Regions from separate parts of the Homo sapiens genome. Here region 2 is reported to be linked to region 1. Evidence: microRNA targets listed by miRTarBase, many of them from high-throughput screens and not tested one by one. Region 1 holds a microRNA gene; the other region holds the end of a gene's coding sequence. Distances are between the middles of the regions.
Evidence for each region. The annotated mature microRNA hsa-miR-1199-5p reads CCUGAGCCCGGGCCGCGCAG and lies in region 1 at 2,404-2,423, opposite strand. An mRNA with a match to its seed (bases 2 to 7 or 8) in the 3' UTR can be bound and repressed. Matches are read on the target gene's strand: a 7mer-m8 pairs with bases 2 to 8, a 7mer-A1 pairs with bases 2 to 7 and ends in A, and an 8mer does both.

Region 1 (4,148 bases):
GTTCTTGGCTCACTGCAACCTCCGCCTCCTGGGTTCAAGTGATTCTCATGCCTCAGCCTCCTGAGTAGCTGGATTACAGACATGCACCACCACGCCCGGCTAATATTTTGTATTTTTAGTAGAGACGGGGTTTCACCGTGTTGGCCAGGCTCGTCTCCAATTCCTGGCCTCAACTGATCCACCCACGTCGGCCTCCCAAAGTGCTGGGATTACAGGCGTGAGCCACCGCGCCCGGCCACGGATGCTTTTGGAAAGCAGAAACTCTTGACCCAACACCACGAATGAGCACGTCTCATAGTGAGGACCCATGAGGTCAAGAAGAACGGTGATCATTAGGAACTAATAATGTTGAGAAGCCTGAACCCTCACCACCTCTTTTTTTTAGTAGCTATTGTTTACGTTCCCAGGGTAGGAACAGCCTCTTATCACCACTGTCTAGCCAGTGCCCAGCGCAGGGCACATCGTTGGCACCAATAAATGTTGACGAGGAAGCCTGGAAACGAGAGGGTGTGAACTCGGTAAGCGCGCCACATTTTGCGCCCGGGCCGCCAGGGGGCGGTAGGACCTGGGCCAGGCCGTGTCTGGCCGTGCCGGGGGAGGCGGGCAGCCCCAGAGCAGGGCGGTAAGGGCGCATTCCCGCATTCCGGCCCGCACCTCTTGGGGTTTTCTCGGGCCTCCCTCGGCCCGCCGTGCTCCCGCCCCACCCCAGACGAAGAGGACCCAGAAAAAAACAGGCTGCAGTGCCCTGAAAGAAGAGGCTTTATTGGGGGTGGGGGGAGTGGGGCAATCGAGGCGGTAACTCCGGCCCTCTTAACAGTCAAGGGAGAGGGTAGTTCAGTTTGCAATTAGGCAGAGAAGGGCTGGGCAGTTTCACTGGCGGAGTTGTGGGTGGTGGTCAGTTTCCCAATGGGGGACTGTAAGTTTTATAGAGGGGGCTGGTCAATTTCACAAAGGCAAGTCGATTTCATCTTCCCCAATGCAGAGAGCCGACCCTTCTCCAGGCCTAATGCTAGACGCCCCCCGCCCTGTTCCTCTGACGCGTACGTTACTTCCGGCCGGGGGTCCCAGCCTTTTCAAACCTCAAGGTTTGCGCTCCTCCTGGGGACAGAGGACCAGAAGGAAGGCCGGCCTCAGGGACCTGCGCACTGCATCCAGGCTCGGGGTGGCGGTTTGGGCCTCAAGACCACCGTCTCCTCTTCACCCCGGGGATGCGTCCCAGACTGAGTTCTGACCAGAGTGGCCCTCCAGGGAGGATGCACTTTTCCCCACCAAGCGTCCTGGCACCGGAGGGGTGGGGGGACCGACAAGCGCTAGAGGCACACGGGTAAGGGGGCTCCCACCTGCTCCAGGCCGTTCTCCGAGACCTTTCTGCGGGGGGGCCAGATCACCACCAACTTTCCGTCGCCCCTGCTCGCTGCGGGGGAAGGGGCGCTCAGCTCACCAGCTGGCGGCAGCCAGGATGAAAGGCCGGCCGCACCCCTTAAACACACACAGGCGTTCACCCTCCGCCTCCCCATGAAAGCCTCCATTCAACTCCAGGCACCCAGGAACCCGAGGGAGGAGGGAGGTGAACCCAGAATGGAGAAGCAGGAGCCCGAAAATTCAGAGGGAGGACCCAGGAGTGCCAGAACCCAGTCAGGGTTCCCTGGAACCCGACAAAAAGGAAGACATCTGGAATGCCCCCACCCCCGCGCAGCCTGGGTGGTGTGGATCAGAGAGTCCATCACTCCCGGTGGAGGGGTGGATCACAGCGAGTAATGGAGCTCCAGAAGGGGTAGGCAAGAGACAAAATTGAGAGGGGGTCTGGGAGCTTGGAGGGAGAGACCCCGAGAATCGGAGGGCCACAGGAGGGGCCACTGAAGTTGGGCAATCGGTGGGGGCGGCTGGAACCCTGGGGGTCCCGGCGTTGCTACGCCCGCGGCTTACCGGTGAGGCTCGGCGTAGGCTCCTTGAACTCCGCGGTGCCATAGACGCTGCGCCGCTGGCGCTGCAGTTCCTGCTCGCGCTCGCGCACGGCGCGCACCTCCTGCTCCAGCAGTGACGGAGTGAAAGGCGGCGGGGCGCTGCCCAGCACCCGGCACCCGCCCTGCACGGCCGAGCGCGGCCGTCCCCCAGGCTCTGGCAGCCTCTGCGGGCCCGCGCCGTCCCCCGCCCCCGCCGAGGAGCCGCTCCCCGCCGCGGCCTCGAAGAAGCGCTTGAGTTCGCCCAGCGGCTGCGGCGGCGACCGGGCGCGCGGCTCGGGGACCGCGGGGCGCGCCAGCGCCGCCTGCCGGTGGGCCTCCCGCTCGATGTCCCGCTGCATCTGCGCGCCCGCCCGCGCCCGCTCCAGGGCGCGCGGGAGCGCGGGGCCAGGACCCGGCAGGTTGAGCACCGGCCGCACGCGCAGCTCGACGAGTTCACGGCCTGCGCGGCCCGGGCTCAGGCCCCGGCTCCGGCGCAGGCTCTCCTCGCGTTCGCAGCTGCGGCGGATTTCGCGCTCGATGGGCGTCTCCATGAACCGCTCCTCCGGGGGACGCTGGGGAGCCTCGGGGCACGGCGGAAAACGCAGGTGGGGGGCTTCCGAGCCTGACCTGGAGGAGGAGGTCTTAGGGCCTGGAGGGGGATGCTGCCCCTGGACCTCCGCCCTTTGCGCTTCGGACGGCCCAGGGTCGTCTCTGCCTGGCTCAGGACTCTCAAAGCCCGCAGCTGTGGACAGCCCGGGGCTCTCTGCGTCCTGCTCGACTGATGGCTCGAGGACTTCGCTCTCTTGCTCCAGGATCTCCACGTCCTTTGCGGAGGGCTTGGGGACCTCGGTGTTCAGCTCCGCAGCAGCTCTGGGGCTTCGCTGTCTGGCCCTGGGGACTCCTGGCCCTCCTCTTCAGACGACCCCAGGGTTTCGTTCTCCGGCCGGTGGGGGCCTTCGTGTCCAGGGTTGGAAGCAGTTCGGAAGCCTCAGTTCCCAACCGGGGTTTTGATTCCCAGAGCGAGGACAGAGGGCACTGTGAGGCACCTGTGGCGGCAGTGGCGGCCGTGGGTTCCAAGGCGTCGCCCGCACCGGCGGCTTCTCTGACCCGCCTCTGGCCTCCAGGAACGGCCCCCGGGGGCAGGGCCGGGCACCGCCCCCGGCACCTGCCAGGAGGACTCCCGCCCCGCCCTGGCCCCGCCCTCGGGACAGGGGCGCCTCGGTGGGGCACTCAGTTTCATCAACTAGCGCGCCCAGTCACCTCAGGGCACGGGACTTCTTGGAAGAGGGCTTCCCTAGACCCGGCCCCGCTCTCTGGGGGGCCATTCTGGGTGCTGGGTTCTACTGAGCGCACCCTGGCACTTTTTCAGAGCCATGTCCCCGTCATCGTCCCGGAGACTGGGCCCAGCAGCGCGTCGGACTGGGGTTCTGAACCACTAGCCGCTTGGTGAGGTGTCCCCCGAAGCCGTATTTTCGGGACCCGGGCAGTCCCGCTTGGTCGTGCCAGCCGGCAGGCAGCGACTCCTCAGGCCCCTGGGCCCTCCCTCCGATCCAGCCTTGCAGCGCACAGCTCCGGCCCGAGGGGGCGCCAGGAGCCGCCTTACTGGCCGCTGGGGTCTCCCTACCAATGCTTGGGCTCAGCGAGGTTCCCAGCCGCGCACCACTGCCCCCACGCCAAGCCGAGAAGCGGCTTCCCCTCTCCTCCCGGAAAAATCCGGGAGGTGTCCGCTGCCAAGGGCACTCCCGGATTGAGGGAGGAGGGAGAGACGGACACAGTGCGCCGTGGGCGCAGCTTAGCGGTTGCAGTTGAAAGGCGGTCACCTTGGGCCCGGGCGCCTGGGGAGGCCCAGACAGGAAACAGGAGGCGTCCAGGGTAGGGGGAAAGAGCAGCTGGGGCCGGATCATGCGGTTCAAGGGCAGGATCGATGCCCTTGCGCGGGCCACCCTCCCCTAGGGACGTTTTCCACTTTCCCCCTAATGGAAGCAGACTCTTCCCAGAACCTGCCCCCAACCCCACCATTCTGGGGTGCCCAGAAGGAAAAATACAGTTACCGGCCGGGCATGGAGGCTCATGCCCGTGATGCCAGCACTTTGAGAGGCCGAGGCGGGAGGATCACCTGAGGTCAGCAGTTCGAAACCAGCCTGGCCAGCATGGCCAAACCCCGTCTCTACTAAAAATACAAAAAAAAAATTAGCCAGGCCTGGT
Region 2 (4,000 bases), 38 Mb from region 1:
CTTTTGTCTGTTACAAATGTGGGAAGGCTTTTGTCCAGAAATCAGAGTTGATTACCCATCAAAGAACTCACATGGGAGAGAAACCCTATGAATGCCTTGACTGTGGGAAATCGTTCAGTAAGAAACCACAACTCAAGGTGCATCAGCGAATTCACACGGGAGAAAGACCTTATGTGTGTTCTGAATGTGGAAAGGCCTTCAACAACAGGTCAAACTTCAATAAACACCAAACAACTCATACCAGAGACAAATCTTACAAATGCAGTTATTCTGTGAAAGGCTTTACCAAGCAATGAATTCCTAGTGCATCAGCATATTCATAAATGAAATATACTCCGAGTTTCTTGAAGAAGAGAAAATCTTCTCAGAATCAGGTCTAATTATATGTTATTGAATTCATGCTTCAGAAAAACTCTAGGGATGCACTGCATGTGTGAACACATGATAAAAAAGTCATGCTTTATTTTAGTGAGGGCAATTACAGAGAAAAGAGTAAGCAGAAATGTCCTTCTGAGTACTGGCCTCATTAAGGATTATAAATTTTCTCCCCGGGAAGAAACCCTGACTAACGCATTGAGAAAAGCCTTTCTGTAAAGAATGGTACAAGACAGGTTGTTACTCGATTATTTATAGTAAAATATGTGGGAAATTATATCAATGATAACCCTGTTTATTGTGGGATATCAATATTTTTAAAGTGCCAACACAGTCATGATAGGACAATATTTTATGTGTGTGTGTGCGCCTTATGTATATAAGCATATATATAATATATAAGCATATTATTATATACAGGTTGAGTATCCCTTCTCCAAAATGCCTGGGATCAGAAGCATTTTGGATTTCAGATACTTACAGATTTTGGAATATTTGCATTATATTTATTGGTTGAGCATCCCTAATCTGAAAATCCAAGATTAAATGCTCCAATTAGCATTTCCTTTGAGCGTCATGTTAGAGTTCAAAAAGTTTCAGATTTTGGGTTTTCAGATTAGGAATACCCAACCTGTATGTACGTATATTTCTGTATCTATGTATGTATATATATGCATATGCAGACATATGTATATGGTCTGGTCAGCATATGTGTATGTATGCGTATGTATGTATGTATGTATGCCCTCAGTGCAGTGGGGTTTGCTGCAGAATTCACTGCATAGCAGGAGATGTAAGCAGATGAGTTATTTTTTAAGAGAATCTAATCTAATTGTTTTTATAAAAATTATTCCCTATTGAATATTTATATAATGAGGTTGTATCAACAATGATTAACTCCTTTATTATACATACACATGAATGTGCATTTTTGGTAAATGCATAAATGAGATTCTATAATGTTTACTGATCTTTATATTACAGATTTTCTCTTCTTTTAGGATTAGCTCAGCTTGCCCCCCCTTTCCATCTCCACCATCTATAGTGAGCCTCTCCATAATTAGTGCCAACCATTAGTCTCGTTCATATTTTTACACCAGGAGTCAACAAACTGTGGCCATTGGCCAAATATGGCCTCCCAACTGTTTTTTTAAAATAAAGTTTTATTGGAACACAGCCATGTTCATTTGGACATGTATTGTCTGGGCTTCTTTTGTGCTGCACTGGCAGAATTGAGTAGTTTTGGCGGAGATCAAATAGCCCCCAAGCTGGAAACTGAAAATATCTACTCTCTGGCTCTTTACAGAAAATGTTTGCCAGCACATGATACACACACAAACACACACACATACACACATATTACTATGTTCATCATCATATACCTGTGTAAGTACTCTTTCATTGATTTATAAAACTCAGATCTCTTACGTGTGTGGATGGTATTTTTTTCATTCTACAATCCATGATGGATTGTACACACGTGTATTCTATGAGGTTGACCTGCCATAATTTATTTAGCCATTCCCACAGTTTTGATTACTTATTTCCTCCCCACACACATTTTTTGCTAAAAAACGGAGAGGGAACTGTTATCAATACTTCCGAGAAGCAGACCAGCATAATCTTTTAAGTGCACAGGCCCAGGAGCCAGGTTCCTGCATTTGATTCCTGGCTCCACTCTCTACCCTCTGCATCTGCTGAGCAAGTTATTTGGTCTCATCTATTCTGGTTTTCTCATCTACAAAAGGGAGATGATGATAGTACCCTACCCCCATGCATTTGGTGTGAGAAGTGTGTGTGTGTTAAACCCTTGGAACTGCATGGACAGACCAAGTGCTGATGAATTTTAGCGGGCCTCGTATCCCTGAGCCTGCCTGGTTCCCTTGTGCTGGGTGTGGGACTGTGGTGGGAGATTTCTGTCAGCTGGAAGTCTTTTCCAGAAGGGTGTTAGAGATGGGCACCCATGGCTTTAGTCTCCATACCCCTTCAAGGTTGATAGGGGCCCACACAGCTGGTCAGGAACCAGCACAGACCTCAGGCTGTGTCTAAAACAAGGTGACTGCACATGCAGGAGCCTGTGCTGGGCCCTGGAGAGCAAATCTGTTCTGTGTCTCACTGGCCTCTCCCTGTCCAGGGGCGTAGTATCAGTGACCATGTCCCACCTCCTGAGAAAGGTGGAAGAGTCTCACCTGGGGAGTCCAGGTACAAGGGCTGGCCGGCCGTAGATGACTGGTGTGGGGTGGAAAGGCTGCAGAGGCCTCTCCATGGTGGTGAGGGGTGGAAATAGTGTGCACCTGGGTCCTGGGAGTGGCACCCTGACCAGTTTCAGGGAGGAAGGTGGCAGGGCCCTAGGACAAGTGTGTTAAAAACTTGAGCCCACAGTGTAGACACACTGGTTCCAAAGACCCCTCAGGATGTGCCTCCCTTCTCAGATCTGGGCTTTCCCTGTTCCTAAGCATCACCTGGGGGGATCACTCTGGGTCCTCATCTCCAGCCACATGTTCACTCCTCACGTGGGCCTCCCTAACTGTCCCCCTCAGGGCAAGCCCTTCCTCCCCACTTCCAGAAAGCTGCTCGTTCCCTGGCCATCCCACACCTCTGACCTCGTGCCACTTCCGGGGCCTGTTGGCTTTAACAACTTAGTTTCCTCCCTACCTCGCAACCCCCTCTGTCTAGAGTGCTCACCTCCCTCCCAGCCTCTGTCTCATACTATTTTTTCTTTCCTCTCAGTACCAAGCGCTGGGACAAGCCAGTCTGTACTCAATGCCTGTGGGATAATAGACGGAGGAATCTGGAGTTTGGTTGGGTGATTAGCTTTGGAATTGATGGGTCCCAGGGAGCTATCTAAAGTTTTCAGTCACATGAGGGCATGCTCACAGATCTGTGAAAAGATCTGTTGGCTCAGAGAACTAAGAGATGAATAAATGTTAGTCCAATGGCCTCATCATGAGATGAGAGGTCAAGAGTTTTGAGTTTCCAGAGGGAGAAGCTACTATTCTAGGCAGCTTGTATGAACTAACTCGTTTATTCCTCACAGCCATTGTAGGAAATAATCTAACCTCATAAACCCCATTTTAGAGATGAGGAAACAGGCTTAGAGAATTTGACGTAAACTCAAGACCGAAAATCTAGGAACAAGAAAAGCCTGGATTTGAACCAAGCTATCTGATGCCAGTGTTTTAACTCTCAACCATTGTACTACTTTACCTCCTCATGACCTTTTTTTTTTTTTTCTTGTGAGATGGAGTCTCGCTCTGTCGCCCAGGCTCTGGAGTGCAGTGGCACGATCTCAGCTCACTGCAAGCTCCGCCTCCCGGGTTCACGCCATTCTCCTGCCTCAGCCTCCCGAGTAGCTGGGACTACAGGCGCCCACCACCATGCCTGGCTAATTTTTTGTATTTTTAGTAGAGACGGGGTTTCACCGTGTTGGCCAGGATGGTCTCGATCTCCTGACCTCGTGATCCCCCCCCCTCGGCCTCCCAAAGTGCCCATGACCTTTTTATTGTTGGGCAGTGAAAGCCATGGTGAAATGAAGAATGTCCTACTGTCATGTGATGTGATCAGAAAACATACTGCCCAGAGTCCCCTGCCCCCACCCCCAAAACCAGTACTTGATCCATCCTTT

Region 2: the mRNA of ZNF175 is a reported target of hsa-miR-1199-5p. Seed matches in the 3' UTR shown: 8mer at 3,274-3,281.

Annotation. Positions count from the first base shown.
Region 1 is chr19:14,071,656-14,075,803 of GRCh38, reverse strand. MIR1199 (microRNA 1199) reads right to left here and starts at 2,443; the gene lies at 2,325-2,443. MISP3 (MISP family member 3) reads right to left here and starts at 3,018. Exons shown (of 3, transcript NM_001291291.2): 1 at 1,927-3,018; 2 at 1,341-1,414; 3 at 742-1,098. The coding sequence starts at 2,494. The coding sequence ends at 1,081. RefSeq lists silencers at 392-627, 2,050-2,459, 3,030-3,199 and an enhancer at 1,342-1,862.
Region 2 is chr19:51,588,172-51,592,171 of GRCh38, forward strand. It overlaps ZNF175 (zinc finger protein 175), which reads left to right. Exons shown (of 5, transcript NM_007147.4): 5 at 1-4,000. The coding sequence ends at 296. LINC01530 (long intergenic non-protein coding RNA 1530) reads right to left here. Exons shown (of 2, transcript NR_034159.1): 2 at 3,612-4,000. Among named protein-coding and RNA genes, the nearest start is that of LINC01530, 4.2 kb to the right of the region's middle.